7 linked regions of the Homo sapiens genome follow. The protein of the gene in region 3 purifies or fractionates together with the protein of the main gene of each other region. This does not show direct contact. Each region holds a gene or a part of one and is shown on either strand. Other genes may lie near its edges.

Region 1 (3,500 bases), on a different chromosome or scaffold from region 3:
GGAATTGGTATTTCATGATCATTTAAAACCAAAGTAAGAAGTCCTTTTGATGGAAAATATATTCTGTAAATCAAACTTCGCTGTTGCCATTTTTCTGTTGTCAACCAATATCTGTTCTTTCCTCAATTTAGGAACAGTCGTGGTAAAATAATTAAACCCCTGCAATATCAATCAACGGTGGCTTCTGGCACAGTGGCAAGAGTAGAGCCAAATATTAAATGGTTTGGTGAGTATTATCCCCTGTTACTTTGCTCTACAAAATATATGCTGAGTGGAAACGGCTAGGATGTTTAAATGTCTAAACAGCAGGAGTTTTTGGTGAGTGAAACCGGCAAGGATTATCTGAGAAAGGGATAAGAAGAATTACTGGGAAAAGTAGTGGTGGTCAATTTAATAAATAACTTCTTTTTGAAGAGCGCTCACCATTAGTAATTGTAATTGAACCCTCTTAAGCAGATAAGACCATCCTTAATGACTAGCATTCACAGACCTTAGAATGCTCATCTTAATCTTTTCTGCTTTCCTAAAGAGATACTGTTGGAGAGGTGGCCTTGTAGGTTTTGTGCATATATCCTTCAGGGTAAGTGCATTAGCCCGAAGTTCCTCTGAAATACTTCTTAATGGGGTTTTTATTTGAACTTGGGTGACAATTAAAGGGTCTCACTGTTGAACTGTCCAACAGTGAATAGAGTATCTTCAGTCTCAGGGTGATCACAGCTTCTTCCTTGGAAAACTCCCTGTCTCATTTCAGTCTGGGCTCTTAACTTTGCCCTTAGCCACTGGTAAATGTATGGGCACTTTAGATGATCAGACCCCAGTGTTTGCTTGGTGTTTGACCTCTGTCCTTGGGGGCAGGTGGCAGCTATCTTTGAGTCTCTTATACTTTCAGTGGGATACTTCCTAAGAACTGCAACACAGAAAGGTGTCAAAACTCTGCAGAGAAGCATTTAGCATGGCTGCTGGGTACTGTGACTCGATTAGACTGCCTGGGTTTGAATTCTAGTTCTGTCATTTATGTGCCAGTGGGCAAGTTATTAAGTCTGTCTGTTCATCAGTTTTCTCATCCCTAACATGAGAATAAGATGAAACCTATCTCATAAGACTGTCATGGTAATCAAATGAGTAAATACAGGCAGGGCGCAGTGGCTCACGCCTGTAATCCCAGCACTTTGGGAGGCCAAGGCTGGTGAATCACTTGAGGTCAGGCATTCGAGACCAGCCTGGCCAACACAGTGAAACCCCCATCTCTACTAAATATACAAAAATTAGCCAGGTGTTGTGGTGGGCACCTGTAATCCCAGCTACTTGGGAGGCTGGGGCAGGAGAATCCCTTGAGCCCAGGAGGCAGAGGTTGCAGTGAGCTGAGATTGTGCCACTGCACTCCAGCCTGGGTGACAGAGTGAGACTCCATCTCAAAAAAAAAAAAAAAAAAAGAGTAAATATATATAAAGTGCTTAGAATAGCGCCTAGCAAATAGTGAGTATAATATAAGCATTACTTGCTACCGTCATTACCACCTTGCTGTTTTGCATTTATGCCGCAGCATGCTGTTTAATTGAATGCTTTTCAGGGTCTCCCTCACAAGATGTTTTCCAGGTGGTGGTGCAGGGCTCTATCTTGTTCCCTTGCATGGACTCATTGGTTAATAGTCCCTTTGAATCCTCATAACCCTAAAAGTGGCTAACTATGACTCAAATTTCAGTGTTTCAAGATTCTCTGTCTATACTGACTGATCAGCTGTGATTGGCTCCAGGTTTCTCTGCTAGATCTAGCAGGTAGTAGGACATTTGACAGATCTCAGTTCCATTCCACGCTATTTATTTCTCAGTTTCATTTAGTTAGGAAACTGGACTTGGAAAACTATTGAAACCCTTTGTGGGTCTGGATTTGTGGAATAGTTCATAGTGTGCAAGTGCGGGAGAGGCAGTTTTTTGGTTTTTTCCTCTTTTAAGTTTGAAAACAGCTCCAAGGGATGGATGGATCAGGTGCTTGGGTAAGTGAGGGTAATTTAAAATCTTGCCTTTCACCGTGTCAGTGGAAGATGGATGCGCAAATATTAACTAAGTGGCAACATTCTTTATTTGTAAAACAGGAAACACACGTGTGATTAAGCAGTCATCATTACAAAAATTTCAAGAGGAAATGGATACAGTTATGAAGGATCCATACAAAGTTGTCATGAAGCAAAGCAAGTTACCAATGTCTCTTCTCCATGATCGAATCCGGCCTCATGTAAGATGTAGGATATCCCTGGTGATGGAATTTCCTGGGCAAACTCCATGCAGATCCCTCTCTAACATATTTGTCTTTTGTTTTTCCTTAGAAAATAGTGACTTTAATGTAGCAATGATGAACTTTCTAAGACCTCTCTTTTCACCTTTTCATGTTTAGTATGAGGTGCAGTAGTGTAGTGGATCAAAGCACAGGTTTTGGAGTTGAGACCTGAATTTTAATCCTTGCTCTATCCCTTCCTGTGCCCTTAGTTGGGTTTCTCCATGAACTTTAACTTCTTTGCCTTGAAAGTATAGATAGGTCGGACACAGTGGCTCACGCCTGTAATCCCAGCACTTGGGAGGCTCAGGCAGGCGGATCACCTGAGGTCAGGAGTTTGAGACCAACCTGACCAACAAGAAGAAACCCTGTCTCTACTAAAAATACAAAATTAGCCAGGCGTGGTGGTGCATACCTGTAATCTCAGCTACTCAGGAGAGGCTGAGGCAGGAGAATCGCTTGAACCTGGGAGGCAGAGATTGCAGTGAGCCAAGATCGTGCCATTGCACTCCAGCCTGGGCAACAGGAGCGAAACTCCGTCTAAAAAAAACAGAAAGTATAGATAACCGACCTCCTTGGGTTATTGGCTACAGATGAAGCATCTGTAAAGCACTTGGCCCATAGTGAGCACATAGCACACCACCTAATAAGAGCTAAATTGATAACAGCTATTAGTAATATTATTTATTTTGGTAGGCAAACTTGTTTTAAGTGGTAATTCCATCAAACTTTGGGACAGCGTAGAATTAGGATTGAGTTGGTAGAACTTTGGTGTTGCGTACGTTCAGCTTTTGTGAGATCCTTGAGATTTTTTCTCAGCTGAAGGAAGGGGTGCTGGTCACATTGGTTGTCAATTGCTAAAATTTGAAGTGCAGTAAGGATTCAATCTGGGTTGAGTGGAATGAGTTTCACACAGAACAAAGAAAGAATCTGTTGTTTGTCTGCTTATTTTTACTTGCATTGAATAATAAATTCCCAGAAATGTAGCCAGTACGTAAGCTTCAGTTCCAGTATGAGGAGGGGAGAAAAACATTGACATGCATACGTGGGTTAAATAGTTCAGGCTGGGCGCGGTGGCTCACGCCTGAATCCCAGCACTTTGGGAAGCCAAGGCGGGTGGATCACAAGGTCAGGAGATTGAGACCATCCTGGCTAACACGTGAAATCCCGTCTCTACTAAAAATACAAAAAAAAATTAGCCGGGCGTGGTGGCGGGCACCTGTAGTCCC
Region 2 (3,500 bases), on a different chromosome or scaffold from region 3:
TAACTCATTTATTTGCTTTATCTTAGGGTAGTATGTGTTTAATTAAAATTTAAAATCTATGTAAACATCTATGCCAGAGATTTTGCCTGTAAATAGTAAGAAATTAAAAAAATCAAAAATCTTTAACGTGTAAGAAAAAAAGTTCTAAGTAAGAAAGAGATAAACAACTTTAGCAAGTTAACTACTTATAAACTGTTTAATGTGCTTACCTCAACTAATGTATTTTCCATTGCAGTTCTCCAACTTTAATGATTTGTTGTATTGTTTTCCCTGTGGAGTGAATATTGATGTATTTTCATACCTGAGTAATTCTTGGTTTGTATTTTCACCTTTTAGTAAAGGAGACTGTAATAGTAAACTTGATCTTGTAATCTGAAGGAAAATATACATCCATTTCCTAGGGATATGAGTCAGTTTCTTTCAACTGTGATAGCTTAGACAGTGGCTATGTTTATGGGATTATGTATCTTTAAACATGAAGAATTTATCCCTAGGATATCTACACCTTTCCTCAATAAAATACTGGGTTCATCATGAATTGAATCTTTTAAGTTCTTTAATCTGGTTACATTTTTAGCTTATATTGCCTCTTGGTTTTTTTTTGTTTTTTTTTTTGTTTTTTTTTTTTTTTTTTTTTCAGTAAATATCCTGAAGATTGCATTTCTGGGAATTATTCCAGGTTCTTGTTTCAGATTAGTAACCCTTTTCTTGTTTTGTTTTTGCTCAAGTAGAGGGAGGGAACAGAATTCCAAAAGTATTCCCTGTGCAGATAGAAGTTAAAAGGGCTTTTATTAGGTTACAGGATCTGGTTCTTACATTCCAGCAGACTCTCTTGAACCAGTATATTCAGGGAGCCATTTGTAGTGACTGACGAATAAAGGCAAGGATCTCTTAAAATAGCATTCAAAGTAAAGTTTATATAATTTTCACCTATACCTGTACATCCTAAACTGTGGTACCCATACCCTGGGATTGTACAGTAGTGTGCCAGATAGTATGTGAACCTAAAGATTAAGTGAAATGTACCTTCTTTGATACACAAATTTACTGGAAAATAGAGTGGAACATTGTTTTAATCATGGAGGAACTGTAAAGTGAAAAGCAGAATTCAAACATAGAAATTTTGAATGTAACCAAAGATTTCAGAGAATTTTTTTATCTTGGAGCAAGTGACCACTGGTGATGCCACCCCCCACTCCACAGGGTTATACGTTTTTTTTTTCTCCTTTATTAGAGATTATTTTGTGGAAATGTGTGAGAAGTACTCTTATTTCACTGAGGTGTGTCTTTTATTTTTGGCATTTTTTGAGTGGCCCATCAAACTTTCCAGATAATTGGCTCTTCGTTCCCTGAAAGAGCTAAGTATAAGCACTTCACTTGGAATATTCACTCCTGTCTGTTGATCAAATTACAGAAACATGAATGCTAATCCTTAGGATCTTTTTTTTTTAACTTTATTATCCTTTTCTGTAAAGTAATTCAAAAGTGAATGAAACTTTTAATAGTATTTTTATTAGAAGTTACAGAAAATTTTTGACAGTCTAAATTAAATTACATTTACAAGTTGCCTCTCATTTATTTTATTTCTCAAGGAATGTTTATAGATTAGTATCTAAGTCTGTGGTTTATTTTAACATATAAATCTTTGATGTGATAGACTTACTTTAAGTGATAAATATATGGTTACATAAAACATTTTAAACTATTTTATAAAAAATATTTATAACTTTCACTTTTGTAGAAGAATACCTGCAGTTGACTTTTGATAAATCAGTATTTAAAATTTCTGCAATTTTGCATCCAAGTACCTACTTGAATAAAATACTTCTGGGCAGTGAACAAGGAAGCCTGCAGTTGTGGAATGTAAAATCCAAGTAAGTATTTTAGTTAGAAAATAATATAGCTGTCACCTTATCCTCATCTACTACTTCCTAATGTATACTTAAGTCTCATTTCTCCCTGCCCTTGTATATTTATTTGGAGGGTTGTCTATAAATAACAGTTGGTCCCCTGTATCAGAGGAGTCAATTAACCTGGGATCAAAAATATTCAAGGAAAAATAAATAAATAATAATACAACAATAAAACATCACATTTTAAAGTAGTACAGTATAACAGCTATTTACATAGTATTTACATTATATTAGGTCTTATAAGTAAGCTAGAGATTATTTAAAGTATATGCATAAATGTGTGAAAGTTATATGCAAATACCACACCATTTTATGTAAGGGACTTGAGCATCTGTGAATTTTGGTATCAGCAGAGAAGTTGGGGAAGTCCTGGAACCAATCCCCCACAGGTAGTGAGATATAACTATATGTTTGCTTTTGGAGTTGTTGCTGGTGGCATCACATATGTGAAAGGTGGCATGTGATCCTGACACATGTTAGACAGCTTCATAAATGCTCACTGAAAAGTATGTACTAATGACCTAATAACTGTAAAGAATTGCTATAGAGAAGGCTCTAATAAAGGTCTATGAGATCCATCAGAAAATAATAATAATGAGATTATTACTAGGGAGCTTCTGATTTTCCATACATGAAGATTTTCTATACATGAAGAAGGTAAAAGATGGAAAGGCAAATCAATAATTTAGTGCTAGCATTTAGAAATGATTTTTAGGGTTAAAAGTACTTCCATAATCTCCCATAGATATGGCAAATATCTAATATTGATGTAGCTAGAGGGCTGGATACATGATTTTGAATACTTCTATCCATTATGTAAACATTTATCAGTAGAAAAAGGTGGCAGCTCACACTTCTTTGTATAGCATTTTAAAAAGCAAACAAAAATATTTGACCATCCAAATTGTTTTTTTCCAAAGTCCTTTTAAATTCAAAAGGGAAAATAAGATTATTAAAGGTTTGATGTTTTAAATCAGTGTTTCATTACAATTTAACAAATACCATTGACTGCCTACTTTGTGCTAGGTTCAGCAATAGTGACTGAAATACTGTCTTTGCCCATTTACAGAATTTAATACATGATTTAATATTTTAATGATAATTATAATGATTTCAGATACCTCTGTTTGCTCCATGGATGTGTTATTTATCATTCATGACTTGCTTCTGAAATTGAGAGCAGCATTACTGTTGTCATATAACAGTCATATAACATGCAAATAATATTTTTATTAAAATATAAGTTATTCCCTTTCATGATGTTTCTATAAAGATACTGCAGTCCTAAATTTTTTTTACTGTAGCCTGTAATATAACATGATTTTTACACACGTATTTTTTTTTCCACTTAGGACATTTAATTTCTTAATGAGGTGGCATAGCATAGTAGTTAGTTTGAGACCTAGAATTTGTCTGGACAATATTACTAACCTTGTGACATTAGCTTAATCATCAGAATAGTGTGTGGAAGAGTAAGAACTTAATAAATATCACCTATTATTATTTCACTTTTTAATGTGTAGCTGATATTGTTTTCCTCCAAAAAAAAAAAAATACAGCTTTCAACTATTTTTCTTCTTGTAGTAA
Region 3 (3,500 bases):
GCGCCTGGCCCCTGGTGTTTTCTTTGGGCTGTATTTCATCGTCTTGCGTTTTTCTGCTCCCCAGGGTGCCTGTTACTCCTGTGATGCCCTCTGGAGCTCCCCCTCAGTTATTAACATGTAGTTGTTCGTTATTCTGATTGCCTTTGTTGTGGGGGACAGATGTGAGGGGCTACTAGTCGGCCATCTTTTTGATGTCATTTGTGTTTTCTTGATCATAGAAGAATATGAAGAAAATAACTGTTTTTAGGATATGTCTGTTTTTTAAGACTTTGAAACAACCACAGATGTTCACATTTGCAGCCTCCATTTGCAGAACTGTACAGTTTGTTCCATAGGGAACTGGAAATGAATAATACATCTCTCGTTTTTTCTTTGCATTCCCAGAAAATATTTACAGATTTGCAGTCTGAAGGATTCCCTGTAATAGAGACCAGCACCCTGACTGAGGAAGGTGTTATTAAAGTTAAAACAGAGGTCAGTGCTGCCTTAAGTCAGGTATTAGTCTTTTTACTGTCTCTTGTTTGATTCAAGTCAGTTGTGGGGAGAAAATAGTTTTCTTTCTAGACATTGTTAACACTTGGAGCCCTCGCAGTAGCGAGGCGGGTGGCGTGCGAGAGTGGGGCGTGAAGACAGACCCTTCTAAGACCCACTTTGCCCCCCGTGGACAGTGGGTTGTGAGGGGATGCTTTGCTCTTCTCACCCCAAACAACTTTACCCTAAAGCAGCTGTTGTCTCTGGCCTTTTAATATTTCGGTAGCAAGTACAGTGAAAATTATTTTTATGGAACCTGTTCGAAGTAGAAGGGAGAAAAGTCTGAAAAGCAGAACAGCTTTTGCAGGAGGCAGTCCGCTGCTGGATTTCACATGCTGTCCTAATTACTTTGTATTTCATGTTGTTTTTATCTCAAATAAAAGGACATTTCTGGCCAGGCGCAGTGGCTCACGCCTGTAATCCCAGCACTTTGGGAGGCTGAGGCGGGTAGATCACCCAAGGTCGGGAGTTCGAGACCAGCCTGGCCAACGTGGTGAAACTCCGTCTCTCCTAAAAATACAAAATTAGCCGGGCGTGGTAGCGCATGCTTGTAATCCCAGCTACTCGGGAGGCTGAGGCAGGAGAATCGTTTGAACCTGGGAGGCGGAGGTTGCTGTGAGCTGAGATCATGCCACTGCACTACAGCCTGGGCAGCAAGAGCGAGATACCATCTCAAAAAAAAAGATGGCACTCCTGATGCCATGGTCGCACTCAGGATTTAAAAAGATGGCACTCCTGATGCCATGGTCGCACTCAGGAATTTGTTGCTCGGTTAGAGTCCTGAGGGGCAACATTGCCTCCGGTTCGTGAAGGGCAGTTGGAGGGCACCGTCTGTGCAGAGGGTCACTGTGGTGGGAGAGAGGCCCAGGCACTGGAGATGCACCTTCCCTCAGGGCCGCTTCCACCTGGGCCTCAGAGAATGTGGCCCCCTACGTGTTAGTTACCTTGAGGGAAAAGGCTCAGTGGCTCTGATCTGTGGCTCCTCCTGGAACCTGTAGCTGGAGGCTGCTGGAGGATGCGTTTGTGACTGTGCCTTCTTTTTTACGTTATTAGGCTTGCGATAGGCTTTTGGCTCATCGAGTGGAAACCAAAATGAAGGGAAATAAAGTGAATGAGGTGCTGAATAGACTGCACCTGGCTATCCCAACCAGGAGGGACGATAAGGTAAGACGGCCCCTGGGACAGCCGTGGGCTCACAGTACTGTCAGCAGGTGCTGTCTGCGTGCCTTTTCCAGAAGCCTCCCATCCAGCTTCACACACTCGCAGGTGGATATTGTGGGTGGGCCTCAGTTTCACCTTCTTGCTTACATAAAGGATCGAGAAGGTGAAGAAAGTGCAGAACGCCACATGGCACCCGTTTCCCACTGCATGACGTGGTCACTGTTAGTTTATCCTTCCAGAAATGTTTCTGATATAGAAGATTAGTTTCTAAAAAGTTCTTTAAACACAGATGGAAATCTGTTTCATTCTTTAAATTTTCATTTTTTTGGCTGGGGGAAGTAGCTCACGCCTGTAATCCCAGCACTTTGGGAGGCCAAGGTGGGAAGATTGCTTAAGCCCAGGAGTTCTTGACCAGCCTGGGCAACATAGTGGGACCCTGTCTCTATAAAAAATAAATAAAATAAATTTTCATTGTTTTGTCCATTGTGAATGGGCACACATCGTTACGCTGTGTCTTCATGTTTTACTGCAAATGTGTCTGCACTTCACCATGTGGTGTTGACAACGTTCCTGTCCCACAGACGCCTTCCTGGTGTGTGCTGCACTGACGCTGGAGGCTGTGTCCTTCCCTCTGTCTTTCCTTGTGTCCTCGGCGTGGTCGGGCACTGACTGTCAGTCTTGTGTAAAGATGATTTTATTGTTGTGTGTTTATGTAATGCTGGGTGCGGTTGAGCATGTTTGTCTGCTTATTGGCCTTTTCAAAGTTCTTTAGGCTGTTTATCTTTTTCTCGCTGATTTGTTACTTTTGTATTACAAAGGTTGGATTCTTGTCAGATACATTGCAAATTTTTTTCTCTTTTTGTCACTTGCCTTTTTAACTTCAAATGTGCTGTACATTTTTGAACTATTAACATATATTAATTTTTTTTTCTGGGTGTTCAGGTTTGCATTGTACATAGAAAGGCTTACCATTCATTCCAAAGTCATTTTAAAAGTATCTTTTCTTGCTGGGTGCAGTGGCTCACGTCTGTAATCCCAGCACTCTGGGAGGCCGAGGCGGGTGGATCACCTGAGGTCAAGAGTCTGAGACCAGCCTGGCAATCATGGTGAAACCCCATCTCTGCTAAAACTACGAAAATTAGTCGGGCGCGCACCTATAATTCTACCTATTCAGGAGGCTGAGGCGGGAGAATCGTTTGAACCTGGGAGGTGGAGGTTGCAGTGAGCCGAGATCACTCCACTGTACTCCAGCCTGGGTGACAAGAGTGAGACTCTGTCAAAAAAAAAAAATTATCTTTTATACTAGCATTAAAAATTAGCTTTTTTGGATAGTCTTCACCGTGTCTTGAGTTGGTTATGTTGTGAGGGTGGAGGTTGCACTCCGTTTCAAGTGGTCGGCATTTCTGACCTGAGTATTGGAAATTTTATGTTTCCATTGAATTCTTATATGCACTTGAGTTTATGTCTAAATTTCTTTCATCTGTTGATCCAGTGTTATTTCTTACCACTTTCTTCTTCCATAATTTTTCATGATAATCATGATTTCTGTTTTTCCTGGATAAACTTTGGAATCACTTTGTGGAGTCCTCCTGGTCTCTGTGCTCAAAGTGACCCTGAACCCACTCCTCTCCCCTAAAATAATCTGTTGGTTGTTAATTGGTCTCGGTATGAACCCACTCCTCTCCCCTAAAATAATCTGTTGGTTGTTCATTGGTCTGGGTATGGTTTTCTGTTCCCCTTGCACGTAGGGAATTTGTTTCTACTTTTTCGGCTTTGTAAGTTTCTCATTCAGCAGGCATTTCACATAA
Region 4 (3,500 bases), on a different chromosome or scaffold from region 3:
ACCGCGCCCGGCCAAGTTTTAAAAATTTTATCAATATATTTGCAGGCAATGAAAAACACATTTCCCAGCCATAGTGAAATGAAAGCTCTATAGATATTTTTTAAAGTATTTCCTCTCCATTTTACACAAAATTCCCTCACACAGGATGACTTCTAATGTTTAAAAAAATCACAAATTTGGAGTACAAATGAATTAGTCTGAATAATTACTACTTATATGCTTTCTTAAATCATAAAGATTATTATACTTACCAGTGATGTCTGATCCTCAAAAGGTCTTGTAATATTTTTCCTAAGAATATCAAAAAAGTGACAATTTTAATAATCTAAATAAGTATATACAATTAATATATTAAGGTAATTTTATATTCAGATGATAAAACAATTGAAAGGATATTCATTCATTCAAATATTTATTCAGTGCCTGTTATATGCCAGGCTACCATTCTAGGAGCTAGTGATACTATACTACTACATTAAACAAGATGCTTGCTTTCATGGAGTTTATAGGCTCGTGGAAAATAAGTAGTCCTCTGTACATATGGATTCTGCATCCTTCTGCATCCATGGATTGATTTGACCAACCACGGATTGACAGTATTCAATAGACAAAGAAAGTGTGTTAAAAAAAAAAAAAAAAGCAGGGGGCGCCGAGCACAGTGGCTTACAACAGTGAAATATGATCGTGCCACTGCACTCCAGCCTGGGTAACAGTGAGACCCCGTCTCTAAAAAAAAAGTTAAGAAATAAAAAGAAAAAGGAACAATAAAAAGCAGGATAAACCAGAAAATACAGCATTATAACTATTTACATAGCATTTACATTATATTAGATATTATAAGTAATCGAGAGATGATTTAAAGTATATGCAACTTACTTTTATGGGAAGCATTTTTTAAAAAAAGGATACAGGAGGAAGTGTGTGGGTTATATGCAAATACTAGGCCATTTTATGTAAGAGACGAGCATACCCAGATTTTAATAAGGGGAGGTTTCTGGAACCCATCGCCCACAGATACTGAGGGATGACTGTAGCTTATTCCAGGGCTGTGGTAAGGAAAAAGACAAGATGAACCCAGATAATTTTGTGATGTTAGAAAGTAAGGAAGTGCTCAAAAACAGGAGGCATGTTGAAAGGTCATAGGAACCAACGTAAAAGAGTTCCCAGCTGGGAGCAGTGGCTCACGCCTGTAATCCCAGCACTTTGAGAGGCTGAAGCTGGTGGATCACCTGAGGTCAGGAGTCTGAGACCAGCCTGGCCAACATGGTGAAACCCTGTCTCTACTAAAAATACAAAAATTAGCTGGGCACCTGTAATCCCAGCTACTCAGGAGGCTGAGGCAGGAGAATCGCTTGAACCCAGGAGCCAGAGGTTGTGGTGAGCTGAGGTCGCACCACTGCACTCCAGGCTGGGTGAAAGAGTGAGACTCCGTCTCATACTAAAAAAACAAACAAAAGAAAAGGTGGGGGGGGGGGGGGTTCCCAATTGCCAAACAGAACAATTTAAGCAACAAAATTAAGAACACTGGATTATAATCCAGAAGAATATATGAGGAAAGCACAACATTTTTGTAGTGTTCTTGACAAACATGCATAACCTCAATCAATTCATGAGAAAATTTAAACCCAAATTGAGGGATAATTTACAAAATAACTGACAAGTACTTGTCAAAAATGTCAAGGTCATCAAAGACAATGAAAGACTAAGGAACTGTCACAAATTGGAGAAGACTAAGGAGGCATGAAAACTAAATGCAACATGGGATCCTGAAGAGAAAAAGAGTATTAAAAGGAAAACTAGGGCCGGGCACGGTGGCTCACGCCTGTAATCCCAGCACTTTGGGAGGCCGAGGTGGGCAGGTCACCTGAGGTCGGGAGTTCGAGACCAGCCTGACCAACATGGAGAAATCCCGTCTCTACTAAAAATACAAAATTAGCCGGGCGTGGTGGCGCATGCCCGTAATCCCAGTTACTCGGGAGGTTGAGGCAAGAGAATTGCTTGAACCCAGGAGGCAGGTGTTGCAGTGACCTTAGATCATGCCACTGCACTCCAGCCTGGGCAACAAGAGTGAAACTCCGTCTTAAAAAAAAAAGAAAAGAAAGAAAAAAGAAACTGGGCCGGGCGGGGTGGCTCACGCCTGTAATCCCATCACTTCGGGAGGCCAAGGCGCGCAGATCACCTAAAGTCAGAAGTTTAAGACCAGCCTGGCCAACATGGTGAAACCCTGTCTCTATTAAAAATACAAAAATGAGCTGGGCATGGAGGTGCATGCCTGTAATCCCAACTCAGGAGGCTGAGGCAGGAGAATCACTTGAACCAGGGAGTCAGAGGTTGCAGCGAGGCGAGATCATGCCACTGCACTCCAGCCTGGCAACAAAGCTAGACTCCGTCTCAAAAAAAAAAAAAAAAACCACACAAAAATTAGCCAGGCGTGGTGGCACGTGCCTATAATCCTAGCTACATGGGAGGCCAAGGCAGAAGAATTGCTTGAACCCAGAGTTAGAGGTTGTAGTGAGCAGAGATCATGCCACTGCACTCCAGCCGGGCGACAACAGGACTCCGTCTCAAAAGAAGGAAAAAAGAAAAACTGGTGCTAATCAAATATGTCTGTCATTTGATTAACATGAGTGAATCGGTGTTAATTTATTAGTTTTGATCATTGCATTACGGTTATGCAAGATGTAACATTAGGGGAAGCCAGGTGAAGGGTATATGGGAATTCTGCATTATTTTTGCACTTTTCTGTAAATCTGTATTTCAAAATAAAATATATATGCTATGGTTACAACTATGCAAGGACATTCAATACAAATGAAAAAAACAGACCAAAAGAAAGAAATTAAAATATTAATAACTGTAAGGAATTTTAATATCTTTTTAAAAAGTTTTTGTTTTCCAAATCTTCCATAAAGTGGTTACTTTTATAATGAAACAAAATCATTTAAAATACAGTAAAAGAAATCATGACTTACTTTTTATATAGTACACCGTATGGTTTTTTCAGTGCATACTGTAAAACAAAATTTATAGCTTTCAAAACAAAACACATTCTGAAAAGCAGAAATAAAAATAAAGCATCATAACAGTCACTCTCCAAGATTGCTCTGGGGCCTCAATCTTATTCTGAGGGCTTCTGCCTGGCTCCCTTTTCATCACTTACAGTAACTTGAAATGTAAGCTTAATATTCTTGGACTAGACTTTCCTATTTAAAAGTTTCTATGCCCTGTCAATAGTCTATCCAACTTAAACAATTTCCTTCATTTCTTTAAACTCGACTTAGTCCAGTCTCTCTCTAGGGAAACAATTCCAGGTGCAGTGGCTCACGCCTGTAATCCCAACACTTTGGGAGGACAAGGCAGATCACTCAAGCCCAGGAGTTCGAGACCAGCCTGGGCAACATGGCAAAACCCTGTCTCTACAAAAAACTGCAAAAATTAGCCAGGCATAGTGGTGCATGCCTGCAGTCCCAGCTACTTGGGAGGCTAAGGCGGGAGGATCA
Region 5 (3,500 bases), on a different chromosome or scaffold from region 3:
GCAGTGAGCCGAGATCATGCCACTGCACTCCAGCCTGGGCAACAAGAGCGAAACTCTGTCTCAAAAAAAAAAATAAAATAAAATACAGATGAAATTGTACTTAGATCATGGGTCGGTGGGGAGAATGTAAAGAGGTAGCACATGAGAAGGTGGAGCCCGTGCTGGCAAGTGGCAGAAGTGTCACGGGTTTGAGTTTGGATTTGCAGCCTCCTTCTTGAGCTGCTGGACCCCAAGTGTTAGAGCCCAGGTGCTTACAATCTCCGGGGCTCAGCCTCGTGGGTAGCAGAGGATAGGCTGCTATCCTTTTTCTGAGATGGAGTCTTGCTCTGGAGTCACCTGAATGCCCCTTGAGCTCTTCCCACACCCAACCACTGGCAAGGCCTGGAGCATCTGCCCCATGGCTGTGTCCTGGGTCACCCGCAGCCCCAACGCACGGCCTTACCCTGCCTCGGCCTTTTCTCCACAGCGGCCAGCACGCCTGCACACCAAGCCGTCCCAGGCACCCGCCGTGGAGGTGGCGCCTGCCGGAGCTTCCTACAATCCATCCTTTGAAGACCACCAGGTACACTGCCCCGTCCAGGCCTCCCTCCTCAGTGGGCTCTGCCTCTTGGTCAGGCCTTCACTAGCTTCCTCCCTGTGCTGGGAACTCCAATGACCCAGACAGCCCTGGGCCTGTCCGCAACGGGGCTCACGGTCCAGTGCAAGAGACCTGTTCCCAGACAGTGATGGGCAGAGTGGTTGGGGCTGGGAGCCCAGACGGGGCACCTGGCCCAGCCTGGGGGGTCAGGAAGGGCTCCCGGGAGGAGGGGTCGCCTGAGCCGAGGCAGAGGCTGAGGGAGGGGTTTGCAGTGGGAGGAGGGGAGTGGGTTTTCCAGGTGGTGGGAACAGCACTGCAAAGGCACAGAGTTGAGAGAGACCGTGGCGCCTTCCAGGAAGCCTGTGGGGCAGAGATGAAAAAGGCTGTGGTGACACGGTGGCACACTGGCAGCCAAGTGACAGTTATATATGGGCGAGGCTAGCTCAGCGATGGGAAAGTCTAGCTGGAGCCACTGTGCATTTAGCGGGCATCTGTTGAGCACAGATGCTGTGGACAAAGGGGACAAAAACCCCTCCCTTGGCCGGGTGCGGTGCCTCACACCTGTAATCCCAGCACTTTGGGAGGCTGAGGCGGGCAGATCATTGGAGGTCAGGAGTTGGAGACCAGCCTGACCAACATGGTGAAACCCTGTCTCTACTAAATACAGAAAATTAGCAGGGCATGGCAGCACGCATCTGTGGTCCCAACTGCTTGGGAGGCTGAGGTGGGAGGATTGCTTGAGCCCAGGAGGTCCAGGCTGCAGTGAGCTATGATCGCACCACGGCACTGCAGCCTGTGTAACAGAGCGAGACTCAAAAAACAAGCACAACCCTCCCTCAAGGAACAGCCCTTCTCATGGGGTCACGTGACTGGAGAGATGCTGAGATGTTTGCGGTAGATGCAGGACCGCTTGTCCGAATCGTTTTCAGCATTCATAAGAAGGAGATAGCTAGCCAGGAACAGAGGCAGCTTCCTCATCTGGTAGAGAAAAGTGTCTGCGGAAAAAAGCAACAGTGTGCTCATGGTTGAAAGCGTGAGGGTGCCGCTCACTGCCATCTGTTCCTGGACCAGATGTGGGAGGGGGCGTGGAGATCAGACATTCACTTTTAGATTTGTACAGAACTACTTCGTAGAGATAAAATTCACTTAACCATACGGTCAGCCTAGTTAGAGTATGTGATTCAGTGGCTTTTAGTGACCATTGTGTAACCATCCCCGCAGTCAATTTTAGAACATTTTCACTGTCCGTAAAGGAAACCTCACACATGTCAGCCATCACCCCCGCAATTCCCTGTCTCGTGTGGTCTTGGGCTGCCAGGCTTCCTGTCTCAGGGACCAGCCCACCCTGACCAATTCACATAGATGAAACTGTGGGCCGGGCATGGTGGCTCACACCTGTAATCCCAGCACTTTGGGAGGCCGAGGTAGGTGGACCACCTGAGGTCAGGAGTTCAAGACCAGCCTGACCAACATGGAGAAACCCCATCTCTACTAAAGTTACAGAATTAGCCGGGTATGGTGGCACATGCCTGTAATAGTAGCTACTCGGGAGGCTGAGGCAGGAGAATCGCTTGAACCCAGGAGGCGGGGGTTGTGGTGAGCTGAGATCACACCATTGCACTCCAGTCTGGGCAACAAGACAGAAACTCTATCTCAAAAAAAAAATGTGAAGCGTGCAGGTCAGACTGCCTTCACAGACGTGCAGAGCAGGTGTGAGGGCGAGGGTTTGAGGTGCCCTCTGGCTCTGTGCAGGGTGGGTGTGCTGGTAGACGGGGTGTGGGGAGGAAAGCCTGGGCCGGGGCGGGATCCACGGGCACTGGATGAGGGACAGATGGGAGGTAAGAGGGTCTAGTCTCAGTGTCCCAGGAGGGGTTCAGGGACCCATCCTCACTCCCGCCCCTCAGACCCTGCTCTCAGCGGCCCACGAGGTGGAGTTGCAGCGGCAGAAGGAGGCGGAGAAGCTGGAGCGGCAGCTGGCCCTGCCCGCCACGGAGCAGGCCGCCACCCAGGTGAGCCCCGCACCTGCCCACTCCCTCCCCTCCCCGGGCCTCCTACCCACCCCTGACACTGCACCCCGCCTCCCCAGGAGTCCACATTCCAGGAGCTGTGCGAGGGGCTGCTGGAGGAGTCGGATGGTGAGGGGGAGCCAGGCCAGGGCGAGGGGCCGGAGGCTGGGGATGCCGAGGTCTGTCCCACGCCCGCCCGCCTGGCCACCACAGAGAAGAAGACGGAGCAGCAGCGGCGGCGGGAGAAGGCTGTGCACAGGCTGGTGAGCGCCTGGGCCAGCGGGGCCTGCCTCTGATGCCTCGCCCCCTTCCTTCCTTCCTCCCACCATGGGCTGCCCTGGGTGCTGCGGGCAGCCTGCACACCCCAAGCCCCGCATGTGGCCTGTGGTTTGGGCTGTTTGGGATCCTCACAGCTGAGACTCATTTCCCAGCCTCTTCCAGGCAGGGCTCGGGCTGGGGTGGGACAGGGTCCCTGGCGCTTCTGTTTGAGGGGCGGGGTGGGGGGAGGTTTCTGCACCGCAGACCAGGGGAGATGGATGACAAAAGGGGCTTCAGCAAACAGCTGCTGGGAAGGCACTGGAGGGGCCGCTGATGTGACGGGGTTAGGAAGGGCCTCCGGGGACAGGCAGGTTTGTGCAGGGAAGGCTCCCTGTGTAGAGAGAAGGTCTCCCTGTGTGGGCAGCACCGGCCTGAGCCCTGACCCTCCCCCGTCTCCACAGCGGGTACAGCAGGCCGCGTTGCGGGCCGCCCGGCTCCGGCACCAGGAGCTGTTCCGGCTGCGCGGGATCAAGGCCCAGGTGGCCCTGAGGCTGGCGGAGCTGGCGCGGCGGCAGAGGCGGCGGCAGGCGCGGCGGGAGGCTGAGGCTGACAAGCCCCGAAGGCTGGGGCGGCTCAAGTGAGAACCAGGCCGGGGGTTC
Region 6 (3,500 bases), on a different chromosome or scaffold from region 3:
TTTAATTAACTAAAAATTAAATTTGAGTAGCTCTATTGGCAAGTGGCTAGCATAGAGACTAGATTAGGAATCTGCACCCTGGGTTCAGATCCTGTTCGTTTTCTGGTCTTAGTGCAATTAACTTTTCAATGCCTGTGCCTCTCACTGACTTGACGTGGTCAAATACGATGATAGAGCTGAACAGATTCTGAGTTTTTAGAAGAAAGATGCTTTAAAATACAAAAGCTACTTTTCTCCATCTTCACTGCTTCTGCTGTACTCTCAACCAGTGTTGTCTCTTGCCTGAACAATTGGGGGATCAGGAAAGGATTCTAGAGGGAACCTTAAGTTTCCTCCATCCTTCCTCCTTTTCAGCCCATTCTCCACACAAGAGGCAGAGTGATTTTTTGATAATTTATTCCCTCTTGTTGCTTCCTGATGAAAAGTTTTTGAATAGCTTCTCATTGTAATTAAGATAAAATCCAAAGTGCTCAATGTGACCCGTGTAATCTTGTGCCTTCTTGCCTCTGAGGCCTCATTTCTCCTCACCCTTCTACACTTCAGCCACCCTGACCTTCTTTCAGGTTCTGGAATGTCAGTTCTTGTCTCCCTTAGAGCCTTTGCACCTGTTTTTTCCTTCCAACTACTGAGCATTCTGCCTCCACCACTCTTTACTTTGCTGAACCTTCCTCATTCTTCAGATTTCAGTCTCTAGCATTTCCCTCTAGCATCCTTTCCTGATCCCCCAAGTTAAACTAGATCCCTCCTGTTGTTTTCAGAGAGAGCATCTTGCAAATTCCCTCAATTTATTTATATAGATTTGTGTATTTATGTAATGTCCATGTCTCTCATGAGACTGTGAGCTTCATAAGGGTGAGGATAGAGTTGGTCCTGTTTTTCACTCTCTCCCCAGTGCTTAGCACAATGTCTGGCACAGAGAGGGTGCCCCGTAGTAGCTAATAAGTTGTGGAGCAAAGATTTGAACCAATGAAGTTTGGTTCCAGAGCCTGTACTGTAAACCACTAAGCTGTGCTACCTGAGTTTCTGTGAGTAAATGGTACCTTTGTTATGATTGCTTTTTTTTTTTTTTTTTTTGTTTGAGACAGAGCCTCACTCTGTCACCCAGGCTGGAGTGCAGTGGCACAATCTCAGCTCACTGCAACCTCCACCTCTCAGGTTCAAGCAATTCTCATACCTCAGCCTCCCGAGTAGCTGGAATTACAGGTGCCAGCCAACACACCCGGCTAATATTTTTTGTATTTTTAGTAGCGGTTTCACTATGTTGGCCAGGCTGGTCTCGAACTCCTGGCCTCAAGTGACCCGCCTGCCTCGGCCTACCAAAATGCTGGCATTACAGGCATGAGCCACTGCACCCGGCCATGATTGCTTCTTTAGGATCCGTAAGTGCACATCCTACTTCAGTGAACTTCAGCATGAGTTGTGGCTATAGATTCCCTTCTTGCCATGCATGTGATACTTGAAGGACTTTTTGAAATCTTCCTCAATTCCTAGTTCCATGTGGAAAAAATATACATTTCTAGGAATAATGTAGTAGTAGTATATCTTTTATCTGGAAAGTTCTTCAAAAGGTACTGGTTTGATTTTCCTTTGGTGAGGAACATTTTATTGCTTACATTGGAGATGATGAAGTTAGCTCTAGTGGAAGAGGACCAGGCGTGTGGCTCACACCTGAAATCCCAGCTCTTTGGGAGGCTGAGGTGGGTTGATTGCTTCAGCCCAGGAATTCAAGACCAGCCTGGGCACCATAGTGAGACCATATATCTACAAAAAATAAGTTAAAAAAAATTAGCTGGGCATGGTGGCATGTGACTGTGGTTCCATCTCCCAGCCACTTGAAAGGCTGAAGTGGGAGGATCACTTGAGCCTGGGAGATTGAGGCTGCAGTGAGCCATGACAGGCCACTGCACTCCAGCCTCAGTGACAGTGAGACTGTGTCAAGAAAAAAAAGAGAGAGGAGCGAGGCCTCCTTTGTTGGTACTGCGCTCTGGAGAGACTTTGAGTGTGAAGTATCTTAGTGAGTTAGTCTATGAAAACCATAGATGATTTTCTTCATATGTGAAATCTTGAGAGAAGTGTAATACTATATCCTTGCTGCTAATTCAAAGGGTAGTTAGTCTGGTATTAATTACTATGTTAAGTATAGTGGCAACTTCCCTGGTTCATCCCATAACACATACATTTCCACACATAGAAGAAGAAAGAGTGGGGGCTGATATCACAACCATGACAAAATTATGAAGGTGGATTCATTGTTCGTCCAGTGAATAGTAGTTGTTATTTTTCAGGTGGGAGAGGACACAGAGGAGACACCTCACCGCTGGTGGATAGAAACCTGTAAGAAACCTGACAGCGTTTCCCTTCATTGCAGACAAGAAGCCATTTTCGAGTTGTTGGGAGGTATACAAAGGGAAGACTGGGTTGTGTTGGGGAGGGAAGGGGGCCAAAAGAGCCTTTTGCAGTTGGGCCTCCAACATGTAGTATTGCTTTTTAACCTGCTGCTATTGTGACACAGCAAGAGAACCAAGTAAGAGAGGGACTGAACTCAGTGAATAAACACTATATTCATGCCTGGTTATGAAACAACAAACAAATGGTATGTTCATATTCTAAGTAACTGGCATTCTGATAGTGGAGATAAATGCATACACCAGGTACTGACCTAAACTCTATGCTTACCTGCACACAACTGCATTTTTGCTCATAGCTGCTGTAGTTATCACTGATAGAAGCATATGTGTTCATTTCATAAAAGAACCTTTTTTTATGTTGGCCTCATGTTTTTTGCAAGAAACCTCATTCTTTATGAATGTTAACTTATTCTCTAAAAGTATCAATGGGAAGAGAGGGAATACATGTTTTTAAGTAATTAGTCCAAGAAAAACGTTTCATTAGGAAATCTGAAAGATTTAAAAATACAAGCAAATACAGATGTATTATGAATGACTTTCTGTAAACTTCTTTTTGTTGTTGTTAAAGGAATAACATCACCAGCAGAAATTCCGGCAGGTACTATTCTGGGACTGACAGTTGGGGATCCTCGAATAAATTTGCCCCAAAAGAAGTCCAAAGCTTTGCCCAATCCAGAAAAATGCCAAGGTAAAGTTCCAAAAACACCCCAGGTTTTCCTTACTATTTCGAGCAGTCCAGTCTTATTAGAAGAAGAGTTCTTTCTCTGACACCTCTCCAGTAACTTCATCTGTAAAAAATTAGGGCAGTCTCCTTACCTGCCCACTTTACAAGCTGATTATGATCTAAGGAAATGGTAGGTGTGGAAGTGTCTTTTAGCAGTAAAACACGTAGCCTGATACTTATGTTCATTTTATTTTCCGAGTTCTCTTTTTTTAGTATCTAGTAAAACCTGTCTCTCTGCAAACTACGTTCTCTGAAAATGTCTGGCGTTTCAGAATTTTAATTGTGAGGAAGGGATCTGCACCCGAAGCTGGTCTTGTGCTCAGTGGAAGCCTCTGTCTGACCATACAGATGATCCAGGTTCGAATCCT
Region 7 (3,500 bases), on a different chromosome or scaffold from region 3:
CCCTGGGTGACAGAGTGAGACTCCGTCTCAAAAAAAAAAAAAAAAAAAAAAAAATTTTTTTTTAAAGTCATTCTAGCAGGTAGTCAGTAGTATCTTGTTGTGGTTTTAATTTATATATCTCCATGAAGACTAGCAATACTGAGCTTCTTTTCGTGTTTTTATTTTACTATTTTCTTTGATGAAATATAGGTTTATATCTTGCCAGTTTTTTTGAGTGTCTTTTTATTATTGAGTTTTGGAGGTTCTATATATATTCTGAATTCAAGTTTTTTCTCAGATAAGTATTTTGCAGATATTTTCTCTTAAGTCTGTGGCTTGTCGTTTGATTTTAAGTGACTTTCAAAAAGCAGAAGTATTGAATTTTGGTGAGGTGTAGTTTGTTAAATTTTTTATAGTTAATAATTTTTGTGTATGCTGAGATACATTTGGCTAACCTAAAGTCATTTTCCTTAGAAATTTTAGTTTTAGCTCTTACATTTAGGTTTATAATTCATTTCGAGTTAGTTTTCATATATACTGTGACATAAGGGATGTTTTTGTCTTTTTTTTTTTTTTTTTTTTGGATTTGGATGTCTAATTGTGCCTGCACTGTTTGTTGAAGAGACAGTCCTTTATTTTTTGAGACAGAGTTTTGCTCTTGTCGCCCAGGCTGGGATTACAGGCTTGAGCCACCATGCCTGGCTGAGACAGTCCTTTATTAAATAACCTTTGCACCTCCCCTCTTCACATTTTGAGAACTTCCATGCTTTCTGATACAACAAAATGTTTTAGCCTCACTTTGAACTTCCCCTGCTCTAGCTTTAGCCCCAGTGGAAACATAAATTTCTAATAGAAATGGTCTTGGCCATTCCTCCAAGAAGATCCGGTTCCTTCTAATTGGGAGTGGTGTGTAGAGACAGGACAGGGTGCTAGCATGCTTGTTCCTGCTGGAGAGCCATGGCTCTCGGTTAGGAGATAGAGCTAGGAAATATGTATATTTTGAAATAACAAGTTTATTTTATTTGATTTTAGAGAAAAGAACTCACTTGGTACCCGGGCTGTAGTGCAGTGGCATGATCTCACCTCACTGCAACCTCGACCTCCTGAGCTCAAGTGATCCTGCTGTCTCAGCCTCCCAAGTAGCTGGGGCTACAGGCACACGCCACCACACACTGGGCTAATTTTTGTATTTTTTTTTTTTCCTCTGAGACAGAGTTTCGCTCTTGTTGCCCAGGCTGGAGTGCAATGGCGTGATCTCAGCTTACCGCAACCTCTGCCTCCTGGGTTCAAGCGATTCTCCTGCCTCAGCCTCCCGAGTAGCTGGGATTATGGGCATGCGCTACCACGCCCAGGTAATTTTGTATTTTTAGTAGAGATGGGGTTTCTCCATGTTGGTCAGGCTGGTCTCAAACTCCTGGCCTCAGGTGATCCGCCTGCCTCGGCCTCCCAAAGTGCTGGGATTACAGGCGTGAGCCACCGAGCCCAGCCAATTTTTGTATTTTTTTTGTAGAGACGGGGTTTTGCCATGTTGCCCAGGCTGGTCTCAAACTCCTGGACTGAAGCCATCCACCCGCCTTGGCCTTCTCAAAGTGCTGGGATTACAAGAGTGAGCCAATGTGCCTGGCCCCTTTTTTAGTTTTTTTTGTTTTTTAGACAAAGTCTTGCTCTGTCATCCGGGCTGGAATGCAATGGCGCGATCTCAGCTCACTGCAACCTCCGCCTCTGGGGTTCAAGCATTTCTCCTGTGTTAGCCTCTTAAGTAACTGGGATTACAGTCATGTGTCACCACACTCAGCTAATTTTTGTATTTTTAGTAGAGACAGGGTTTCACCCTGTTGGCCAAGCTGGTCTCAAACTCCTGACCTCAGGTGATCCACCCGCCTCGGCCTACCACAGTGTTGGTATTACAGGCGTGAGCCACTGCACCTGGCCCCCTTTTTTACTTTTTAAATGTCTTTTGATGAGCAGTTTATTTTTTATTTTATTCATTTATTTATTTTTGAGATGGTGTTTCGCTCTTGTTGTCCAGGCTGGAGTGCAGTGGTGCCATCTCAGCTCACTGCAACCTCCGTCTCCTGGGTTCAAGCAATTCTCCTGTCTCAGCCTCCTAAGTAGCTGGGATTACAGGTGCCCGCCACCACGCCCAGCTAATTTTTTATATTTTTAGTAGAGACGGGGTTTCACTATGTTGGCCAGGCTGATCTCGAACTCCTGACCTCGTGATCTGCCCACCTCGGCCTCCCAAAGTGCTGGGATTACAGGCGTGAGCCACCGCGCCCGGCCAGTGGTTTTTAATTTTGAGGAATTTCTTTTTTCTTTATGGTGGATATCTTTTGTGTTCAACTCTTTGCCAGCCTTACAGTCTTGAGGCTTTCTCCTGTTATAAAGTCTTTGTAATTTTAGTTTAGATCACATTTAAGTGATCCTAGGTCTAATTTTTGTTGTGGTATGAGTTAGAGATCATGGTTTGATTTTTTTTTCTTCCCCCCACCCCGCTCCATGCAGATACCTAGTTAGTTGCTCTGGTACTATTTTTTTAAGAGATTTTTAATTTGTTTTGGTGTGTTTGCCAAAAATCGAGTGACCTTATATGTGCAGGTCTTTTTCGTGCTGTTCTGTTGATCTATTTATCCTTACACAAAACCATATCCTAGTTGTTGTGACTTTATAGGAAGTTTTAAAATCTGGTAGTGTAAGTCTTCTATTTTTCTTTTTGAGTGTCTTGGCTAATATCGGTTAGATTTTTAAGTTTTTTTGTTTTTTTTTTGTTTTTTTTTTTTTGCTTTTTGAGACGAGGTTTTGCTCTGTTGCCCAGGCTGGGGTGCAGTTGTGTGATCATAGCTCCCTGTAGCCTTGATCTCCTGGGCTTAAGTGATCCTCCTGTTTTAGCCTCCCACATAGCTAGGACTACATACAGGGGCACACTACCACACCTGGCTAATTTTGTTTTTATTTTTGTAGAGTCAAGGTCTTGCTGTATTGGCCAGGCTGGTCTTGAACTTCTGAGCTCAAGTGATCCTCCCACCCTGGCCTCCCAGAGCGTTGGGATTACAGGCATGAGCCACCCTGCCCAGCCTGATTTTCTATCTGTGTTATTGTAATCACTTTCTTGATAATGTCCATGATACACAAAAGTTTTAAAGTTTGATTAAGTGTGACTTTTTTTTTTCCCTCTTGTTGATTGTGCTTTTAGTTTCATATCTTAAAAACCAATTGCCAAACCCAAAGTCATGAAGACTCGCCTGTTTTTGCTTCTGAGAGTTGTGCATGTTAGCGCCTCTGTGTAGGTCTTTGGTCCATTTGGAGATTGTAATCACTTTAATATGCAGCTAACTTTCTGTTCATGTTTAATTTTAGATTCTTTCCCCATCTTTGTTGACTTAGTTTTATTTCTTTAATATGTAAAACAGTAAATGCTTCCAGAAGTCAAAACTATCATTCCCGTCTCATCCCGTCTGTCTACCCTAATCCCTCACACCTGTTGTAGGTAACTAATTTCATTGCTTGCTTTTTGAGACGGA

The links.
Region 1: the proteins of GTPBP4 (region 3) and GNL2 purify together in Homo sapiens (affinity purification with mass spectrometry; 2 studies listed by BioGRID and IntAct, with this or other methods). This does not show direct contact.
Region 2: the proteins of GTPBP4 (region 3) and WDR36 fractionate together in Homo sapiens (co-fractionation; one large-scale study listed by BioGRID). This does not show direct contact.
Region 4: the proteins of GTPBP4 (region 3) and RPF2 fractionate together in Homo sapiens (co-fractionation; one large-scale study listed by BioGRID). This does not show direct contact.
Region 5: the proteins of GTPBP4 (region 3) and NOP53 purify together in Homo sapiens (affinity purification with mass spectrometry; 2 studies listed by BioGRID and IntAct, with this or other methods). This does not show direct contact.
Region 6: the proteins of GTPBP4 (region 3) and POP1 purify together in Homo sapiens (affinity purification with mass spectrometry; 2 studies listed by BioGRID). This does not show direct contact.
Region 7: the proteins of GTPBP4 (region 3) and STAU1 purify together in Homo sapiens (affinity purification with mass spectrometry; 2 studies listed by BioGRID). This does not show direct contact.

What each region holds. Positions count from the first base shown.
Region 1 is NC_000001.11:37,589,438-37,592,937, reverse strand, and holds part of GNL2 (nucleolar GTP-binding protein 2), read left to right. Parts: intron 1-131; coding exon 132-226; intron 227-2,092; coding exon 2,093-2,232; intron 2,233-3,500. UniProt on the Homo sapiens protein: GTPase that associates with pre-60S ribosomal subunits in the nucleolus and is required for their nuclear export and maturation.
Region 2 is NC_000005.10:111,098,848-111,102,347, forward strand, and holds part of WDR36 (WD repeat-containing protein 36), read left to right. Parts: intron 1-1,741; coding exon 1,742-1,874; intron 1,875-3,497; coding exon 3,498-3,500. UniProt on the Homo sapiens protein: Part of the small subunit (SSU) processome, first precursor of the small eukaryotic ribosomal subunit.
Region 3 is NC_000010.11:1,005,434-1,008,933, forward strand, and holds part of GTPBP4 (GTP-binding protein 4), read left to right. Parts: intron 1-384; coding exon 385-474; intron 475-1,584; coding exon 1,585-1,695; intron 1,696-3,500. UniProt on the Homo sapiens protein: Involved in the biogenesis of the 60S ribosomal subunit. Acts as a TP53 repressor, preventing TP53 stabilization and cell cycle arrest.
Region 4 is NC_000006.12:110,988,538-110,992,037, reverse strand, and holds part of RPF2 (ribosome production factor 2 homolog), read right to left. Parts: intron 3,011-3,500; coding exon 2,973-3,010; intron 292-2,972; coding exon 252-291; intron 1-251. UniProt on the Homo sapiens protein: Involved in ribosomal large subunit assembly. May regulate the localization of the 5S RNP/5S ribonucleoprotein particle to the nucleolus.
Region 5 is NC_000019.10:47,752,046-47,755,545, forward strand, and holds part of NOP53 (ribosome biogenesis protein NOP53), read left to right. Parts: intron 1-466; coding exon 467-562; intron 563-2,481; coding exon 2,482-2,586; intron 2,587-2,663; coding exon 2,664-2,846; intron 2,847-3,302; coding exon 3,303-3,478; intron 3,479-3,500. UniProt on the Homo sapiens protein: Nucleolar protein which is involved in the integration of the 5S RNP into the ribosomal large subunit during ribosome biogenesis. In ribosome biogenesis, may also play a role in rRNA transcription.
Region 6 is NC_000008.11:98,137,793-98,141,292, forward strand, and holds part of POP1 (ribonucleases P/MRP protein subunit POP1), read left to right. Parts: intron 1-2,285; coding exon 2,286-2,397; intron 2,398-2,976; coding exon 2,977-3,096; intron 3,097-3,404; coding exon of another isoform or gene 3,405-3,412; exon of another isoform or gene 3,413-3,473; intron 3,474-3,500. UniProt on the Homo sapiens protein: Component of ribonuclease P, a ribonucleoprotein complex that generates mature tRNA molecules by cleaving their 5'-ends. Also a component of the MRP ribonuclease complex, which cleaves pre-rRNA sequences.
Region 7 is NC_000020.11:49,125,835-49,129,334, reverse strand, and holds part of STAU1 (double-stranded RNA-binding protein Staufen homolog 1), read left to right. Parts: intron 1-3,500. UniProt on the Homo sapiens protein: Binds double-stranded RNA (regardless of the sequence) and tubulin.